2 linked regions of the Homo sapiens genome follow. The protein of the gene in region 2 interacts with the protein of the main gene of each other region in a pairwise test. Each region holds a gene or a part of one and is shown on either strand. Other genes may lie near its edges. The genes, in order: ZRANB1 and METTL21A.

Region 1 (3,823 bases), on a different chromosome or scaffold from region 2:
TGGTACAAGGTCACTACTAGAAATAGTTCATAGGAGAAACTGCTTACCTCCTGAGCAGAAAGGAAGTGCACATGGAGTAGCTTCCTTTCACTGTCAACCAGAGGCAAAAATGTGATGGTGACATCATCATCGGTATTGAGATTAGCACCAGCACCTCGGTTGCCATAGCCATCATTTTCCATGGCAACCAAAGCAGAGAAGTGGCCCCTCGTATAACCCAGAGCAATCGGACTTTTCCAACAAAAACTCTGTTCCCACAACAAAGGCAGATAAACACCTGGAAAGAGAGGGAAGAAAATCCCAACAGTCACAGGAAGAAAGAGCCACTCCCTCACTGCCCTTGTTCACATTCCCCTGTCCACTGCTCCTTCCTGACATCTGAGCCATTCCGTTCAAAGAAACTTGTAAAACGTTCCTGAATAATGGCTTACCTTGAAACCGAGTATATCCTAAAGTTTCTCCCCGGAAACTCTTGTAATATTTTACTCCATAAACTATAATTGGTCGTCTAAGAATATGTGCCAGTACAAAAATGTGCGTCTGCTCCAAGCTTGCTCCAGGCTGTACGAAACAAAACAAAAACTTAAAACATTTATTACCACTCCTGGAAAACTGATGTGTAAAAAACAATACTACCTCCCCTTCAGTATACTATCGCAGTTGGTTTTTAAGAAAGAAAAGATTGTCAAAGCAGCATTTGATTCCTCAAATAATAAATCCAGTAAAACTGTAAAAGAAATCTATAAAGGCTACATGCAAATATCATTTACCATCCAAACTCACAAATTATACAGATGTGCATACATACTTTGAAATATCCCTCACTACTAACTCTCCAACCTCAGGAACCAGAGATTCAGATAACTAAGGATGCTTTATTATCACATTCTCGTTAAGTTACTGTGAAAGCACTACCTACAACAAAGTCCTCCTGAAATAAATAAGTGAGCCTGTTTCATGCAAATGTAAATGGCAGTATCAACTAACTCGTGAATACTAATATTAAATGGGTCCATCATCGAGCTACAATGCATGGTGTGAGATACATGTCTCATGTAAATCAACCACTATGAATCCTGCCCAAATTGCCCAAAGATCGGGTACCTCCTTCTCTAAGTTCAAATGAACCATGGTGCTTTCTGCAAAAAAAAAGGAGTAGTTGTATATATATTTGTACTTTACAGTTTGGTATACTGAAGTGCTTCACAAAATAAAGCATGAAACCAAGAGTCTAAGGGACAACCCTACACAGTTCTGTGTCACAAGCAGCCTTCATTAATAAAAAGACGTTAGCAAACTTGCAAAACTTCATTCCCACATTAATCAGAAATCATTCCTATTGATGGTAATTAGTTCAGAGTAAGCTAAACTACCCTTTTCCTTTGCCTACATGACACAGGTATTGCCTCACCACAGGGAGCATTATGAAGATTGACAACTGGTTCCTCAGGGCCTGACAGATCAGCAACAGCAATGCAAGTACCTACACCAGTAATCTTAAGTGTCCCCAGAGACAGAACAGAGCTCACCTGGATAGGTACCATAGGCATCAAGCCTATGCTGCAGGAACGGAGAGCAATCCCAAGACTATCTACTGTATGTAACCGTCATAGCACAGCTTTCACTTTTTGATGTTTTTAATCATTCGATATAAAAACACGTTACTCTTCCTGCTCTGCAGTGAGGACTTGCGATGCTAATCTATACTTGCGATGCTCATCTATACTTGCGATGCTATTTATTTGATACACAGCAGTCATCACTAGAACCCAAGTTGACTGATGATACCACGTCAAGCATTCTTTTCTTTGACCACATTGCCCCCAACATGGTTTGCTCAAATAAACCAGTTTAGACTACATGCTTACTTTTCTCATAGAAGCAACAAGACTTGAAGCATCCTCACCTGACTAGCAAGAGAGAGTATAAATGCCCAGTCTTCTTGCCACTGTTCTTCTCTCAAGGAAAAATGTAAACCAAAGCTCTGAGAATACCATGATTCCCAATCTTTCCAGCGTGTGTAAAACCTAAAAAAGCAGGATAGTAAAAAAATAAATAAATAGTCTTCTATAAATAAAACATTTAAAGTTCTGATCATTTTTATTTAATGCAGTCTTTAAGCAGTCTGTGAAACAATTAATAATTTTATTTTGTCTGGTTGGTAATGTATTTTTCTAATGAAAAATGCCTCCCTCTTCCACTAGCAGATACCTTGTAACATCCTTTAACATCTTTAGTCAGAATTTGATTTACCGACAACCAAATTTTCAAACTTCAAACGCTAATGATGAGACTGGTTATTTTCCACTGTCCACAATTAGTTTACAAAAAAAAAAAAAAAAAGTCATCTGAAATGTTGTATACAAAGACACTACATTTCTCTATCAATGTATAGTACACCACCTACTTGATCACTTGTATAAACAACAGGTGGGAAATATTCCGTGTGTTCATAGTATCAAGATCATCTCCCTGAGATTTCTTTCCATAAATAATTTCTCTGATGATCACCTAATAATTCAAAAGCAACCAAAAAGAAACCCACTGCAATGACAGAAAACATTCCTTCTTTATGCTTAACACTGAATTACTGAAAACACATCGATTCTTTGTCTATCAAATATAAAAATTCAGAAATAATTATGCTCAAAATTATGGTTCACTGTCTTATAAAAACAAGCCAACTAAGACCTCTAAAATGCAGACAGACATTTAATCTGTTTATAACATCACATTTATCTTCTATACATCTGAATTCTAGGTAAAAGAAACAAAAGACCAATCTGTTCCTGTTGTTAAAAAGTTTCAGCATATTAAAGTTAAACGTGAACACGTGTGGTAACTCACACCTGTAATTCTAGCACTTTGGGAAGCTGAAGGAGGAGGATTGCCTGAGGTCCAGAATTCAAAACAACCTGGCCAACATAGTGAGACCCCGGCTATATTGCGGGGGGAAAAAAAAAGTTAAATGGGTGGTGTCACAAGTAACTTTACAGTAATTTAATGAAGGGCTCCTTAGAGAGTAAATATATTTCCTAAAGAAATTAAAATATAATGTTCCAGAGGTTTAACTCAGTTTAAAACATTTTTCATACTCCACGTAACTGAGGATGTTTAATCATAATTCCAAATGTTTTAAAATTAAAATATGTATATTCTTTTATAATCGCTAAGATAAATGTGTCTTGAAAATTTTGGCAACAGTGATGAAATACATTGTTTTGAAAAGTTCAAGGAGAAATATCAGAGAAATTGTCAATACTGAAAGTTATATGCAGTTAGAAATTTCTTGGTGCCTAAAATAACTTTATAAATAAGACAGCTAAGCCAGCCAGAAATTCAATGGTGATTGCACTCAAAACTCTTCAAAGACCACTGAAGAAGGGAGGTTCAATGAAATATACTTTAAAACTAAACATGTTAAAATGTTCATCCTCACCACCCCAAGACCTAAACTCTGATACTACCAGAGTCTCCATAAGAACAGACAAGCAAACCAAATCCAGCAATATATGACCAAATGGTACAGGAATACCAGTTTGGTTTAACATTCAAAACTCAATTCCATGTTCATGGATTGGAAGGCTCAATATTGTCAAGCTGGCAATACCACCATCACCCCAATTAAATCTACAGATTCAATGCAATCCCAATCATAATCCCAGCTGTCTTTTTTACAAAAATCGATAAAGCTGTATCCTAAAATGTATATGGAAATCCAAAGGACTCAAAATAGTCAAAACAATGTTGAAAAAGAAATACAAAGTCAAATGACTTACAGTCCAGATTTCAAAATGTATTACAAAGATATGATCATCCAGAC
Region 2 (3,823 bases):
AATCCCAGCTACTCAATGGGCTGAGGCAGGAGAATCGCTAGAACCCGGAGGCGGGGGCAGAGATTGAAGTGAGCCGAGATCGCACCACTGCACTCCAGCCTGGGTGACAGAGTGAGACTCCATCTCAAAAACAACAACAACAACAAAAGGTATGTGAATGTGGTCTCTCTCTCTCTCTAAAAAATATCTTATCATACTCTAGTCACCTGTTTTCAGACCAAGGCTGACAGTGGGTAACTGAAGCCAGGGAAAGTGATCACAGGTGAGGGGGGACTGCTACAGTTCCAAGTACCATAAGACCAGGGAGATTTTCAAACTAAGAACGAGGATTTGAGAGTCAGATTGGATTCAAATTCTAAGCACAATCCATTAGCTTTGTGACCTCAGGCAAGTTACTTACCCTCCAAGAAGCCTCCCTTTCACCACTGGAAGGGCGCTATAAGTAGGTAAGGCCTACTTACCATGCAGGGTGACTGTGAGAATGAAAGGGTGTAATGCACAGTCCTCAGAACACAGGAACTACTCAGGAATTAGCAGCTGGTTTTTAACAGGAAAGTCTCATCACCCTATATTAATATCTACATAGCACCGCTTTTTTTTTTTTTTTTTAATCTTCTTTCTTTACCTCTACCCACTAAACTCAGAACGTAAGCTTCCGGAGACACCTGCCAGCCTGTTTATTGCCCCATCCACAGTGGACCGCCAGGCTTCTGGTGGGTTCTCCCCAAATTCAGGAATAAATGACTAAGGTTACAAAAAGAGAATATACTTTAAAAAGAATAATAATTAATCTCTTCCTGACATTTCAAAATCACTACCTATTCTAGTACTCACTGATTCTATTTTGAAGAGACTAACATTTTCTTACCCTCAGGCTCCAACAGCAAAACTTCTCCAACCTAACACTTTGTAGTGACTACAAATAGTGAGTATGAAAATCATACAGTAGCAGAGAAATGCTTATGACATAATGTGAAAACATCATTTGTATAGGTGTGTGTATACGGATACACAAAACACACATACGCAGACATATATATTTACATATATATAATCATAATTACAACTATGATTAAAAATACAGATGGAGAGAAACAAAACATACCAAAATGCTAATGGTAACTCTGGTGGTATCTGAAATATCTTATTCTGACTTTCCCAACCCCAGAGAACCAGATTGCTAGATCAGAAAAAGCAGTTACTCAGAGAGTAATCAACACTCGTGGAGCACTTCCTTTGTGTCACTCAGTGAGCCAGCAGATGTTATACACGCAATCTCATTGGTTCCTCACTGTGGAGTAAATATTACTATTATGCACAATGTACAGATGGGGTAATCAATGTTTAAAGGTTAAGCAACTTGCCCAAGGTCACACGACTAGTAAGAATGAAAAGAAATGTCAAAACCAAGTATAACTAAGCCTATGCACTTTGCTACACTAACATGTCTATACACCAGCCAAGAAAGTTTTGCATGAAGCCCTGGTTCTCAGGAGGAAACAGAAGAAACCTCATTTCCCCTTATAGTAACTCTTATATCAGCAGAGAGAGAAGTTGGTGTTACAGAAAAAAATAAAACAGGCCAGGCACGGTGGCTCACTCCTGTAATCCCAGCACTTTGGGAGGCCAAGGTGGGCAGATCACCTGAGGTCAGGAGTTCGAGACCAGCCTGGCCAACATGGTAAAACCCCATCTCTACCAAAAATAAAAAATTAGCTGGGCGTGGTGGCACATGCCTGTAGTCCCAGCTACTAGGGAAACTAAGGCAGGAGAATTGCTTGAACCCGGGAGGCGGAGGTTGCAGTGAGCCGAGATCATGCCACTGCACTCCAGCCTGGGCAACAGAGTGAGACTCCATCTCAAAAAATAAATAAATAAAATAAAATAAAATAAAATAAAATAAAACAACTAACTGTGTCTAACAAGCCTGGTTTTGAGTCCCAGATCTCCAGTGATCAGGACTTCAGAAAGTAGCTTCATCTCCCAGAATCCCAGCTTTGTTTGAAAAATGAAAATTAAAAATAATACCTAACATACACGGGAATGTTCTAAGGCTCACCTGAAAAGAATAAAAGGCAGTGTACCAGCAAGGGCTTCATCGATGACTTAAGTGCTGTGGTTGAAGACGGACGGAAACCTCTGTCAATTTACACAGACTTTCAACCACCACCCCTGCCCATGCTCCCTGTCGAATTTTGGAAAGCAGCAGCTAAGCAGAAAAAGAAATAGTGAAAAAGTATTGGGTTTCTGGAAAACAGGCAGGACAAAAGAGGGGCTTTAGCTGGTCCTCAAATATCTGTAGACAATGCGATGGGTTTAGAATACTCTGGAATCCTGGATCCTTCCTACCCAAGTGTAGTCTGAGAACCAGCAGTGTCGGCATCACTACTGACATTTCTACTGCTTGTTAGAAATGCAGGTTCCCAGGCCCTGGTCCAGCCCTGCCAAATCAGAATCTGCATTTTAACAAGAGCACCAGGTGACAATATGGAAGTGATAAACATTATACATTGTATCTTGAAAGCTGGTCTACCCTTATGATTAGATAGCTTGAACTATATATGTCAGAAGTTATAGAAATGAGTCAATAGTCAATAATAAAAATAACAATGAAGCCTAAAAATGCTCTAGCTCCAAGCCTCAATTAATGTGTGTATACCAAATTTTAAAATGACAAACTTTGATATCAAGTCAGAACTGTATACTGTTCATACAATTTTAAAAATAAGAAGTCAGTACAAACTATAGTGGGGGCTAGCCCTCCCTACAAGAGAAAAACCAGCAAAGTTTCCTCAGCAATGAAGAAAAGACTATCTGCTCTATCTCCCTCACAGGGTTAAATCAGATAGTGTATGGGAAAGAAAGCCCCTGAATGTGAAAAAAACTCTATACATGGGTAAGATTATTCTCCTTGAATCAACTCACTTTAAGATCGTATTATTGGCATCACAGAATTGAAGGGGGCAGAGCAATCTCCCATGGGAAGTATAAATAACAGAGTGTGTGTGTGTGTGAGAGAGAGAGACAGAAATTAGAGAGAGAGAAATTAGCCCGTTAGCCTCACTGGAGTTAAGAACCCCAGCAGTTGGCCCACAACTCATAAGTATAAGCAAAAGATAATAACCCAGTAAGGGGAAAACCCACGAAGGGTTTTGCGCTAAGAAAACAGCAAATGCACCTCTCAATGAGTTCTGCTCACTAAGGAGTCAATGCATGACACTCACCCAGCAGGGCAGCCACTATGCCCACCAGCCCCGTGCCAGCACCCAGCTCCACGGCAGAGCGGCCCCTGAGCTCCACAGCTCCCATCTCCAGGTATGTGGAAAGAACGATGGCCTGAATGAAAACACAGTGTGATGACGATTAAGGTCAACATGTGCTTGAGTAGCTGCAGGGTTTCAGGTCAGCTACACCCACCCCTCTCCCACTTCGAGGTTCAATTCCCAGCTTAACAACACACACAGGAACTTAGCTGGTGCAGCAAGGTAACCTCCCCCTTAGAGCAAGCACAGGGTCCCACAGCAGTGCCCAGAGATGATGCCCACACTAAATGGGGTCCTGCTGGATCTGGAAAGCTTAATTTTTTTTTTTTTTTTTTTTTGAGATGGAGTCTCAGTCCATCTGTCACCCAGGCTGGAGTGCAGTGGCACAATCTCAGCTCACTGCAACCTCCACCTCCCAAGCTCAAGCGATTCTCCCACCTCAGCACCCCCAGTAACTGGGACACAGGCGTGCACCACCACACCCAGCTAATTTTTGTAGTTTTTTTGGTAGAGATGGGGTTTTGCCATGTTGGCCAAGCTGGTCTTGAACTCCTGAGCTC

Evidence for each region.
Region 1: the proteins of METTL21A (region 2) and ZRANB1 interact in binary tests that used the Homo sapiens proteins (3 or more experiments, as listed by UniProt).

Annotation. Positions count from the first base shown.
Region 1 is NC_000010.11:124,979,913-124,983,735, reverse strand, and holds part of ZRANB1 (ubiquitin thioesterase ZRANB1), read right to left. Parts: intron 2,512-3,823; exon of another isoform or gene 2,408-2,511; intron 2,028-2,407; coding exon 1,907-2,027; intron 562-1,906; coding exon 432-561; intron 278-431; coding exon 48-277; intron 1-47. UniProt on the Homo sapiens protein: Ubiquitin thioesterase, which specifically hydrolyzes 'Lys-29'-linked and 'Lys-33'-linked diubiquitin. Also cleaves 'Lys-63'-linked chains, but with 40-fold less efficiency compared to 'Lys-29'-linked ones.
Region 2 is NC_000002.12:207,618,582-207,622,404, forward strand, and holds part of METTL21A (protein N-lysine methyltransferase METTL21A), read right to left. Parts: intron 3,337-3,823; coding exon 3,225-3,336; intron 2,210-3,224; coding exon of another isoform or gene 2,160-2,209; exon of another isoform or gene 2,114-2,159; coding exon of another isoform or gene 2,060-2,113; intron 1-2,059. UniProt on the Homo sapiens protein: Protein-lysine methyltransferase that selectively trimethylates residues in heat shock protein 70 (HSP70) family members. Contributes to the in vivo trimethylation of Lys residues in HSPA1 and HSPA8.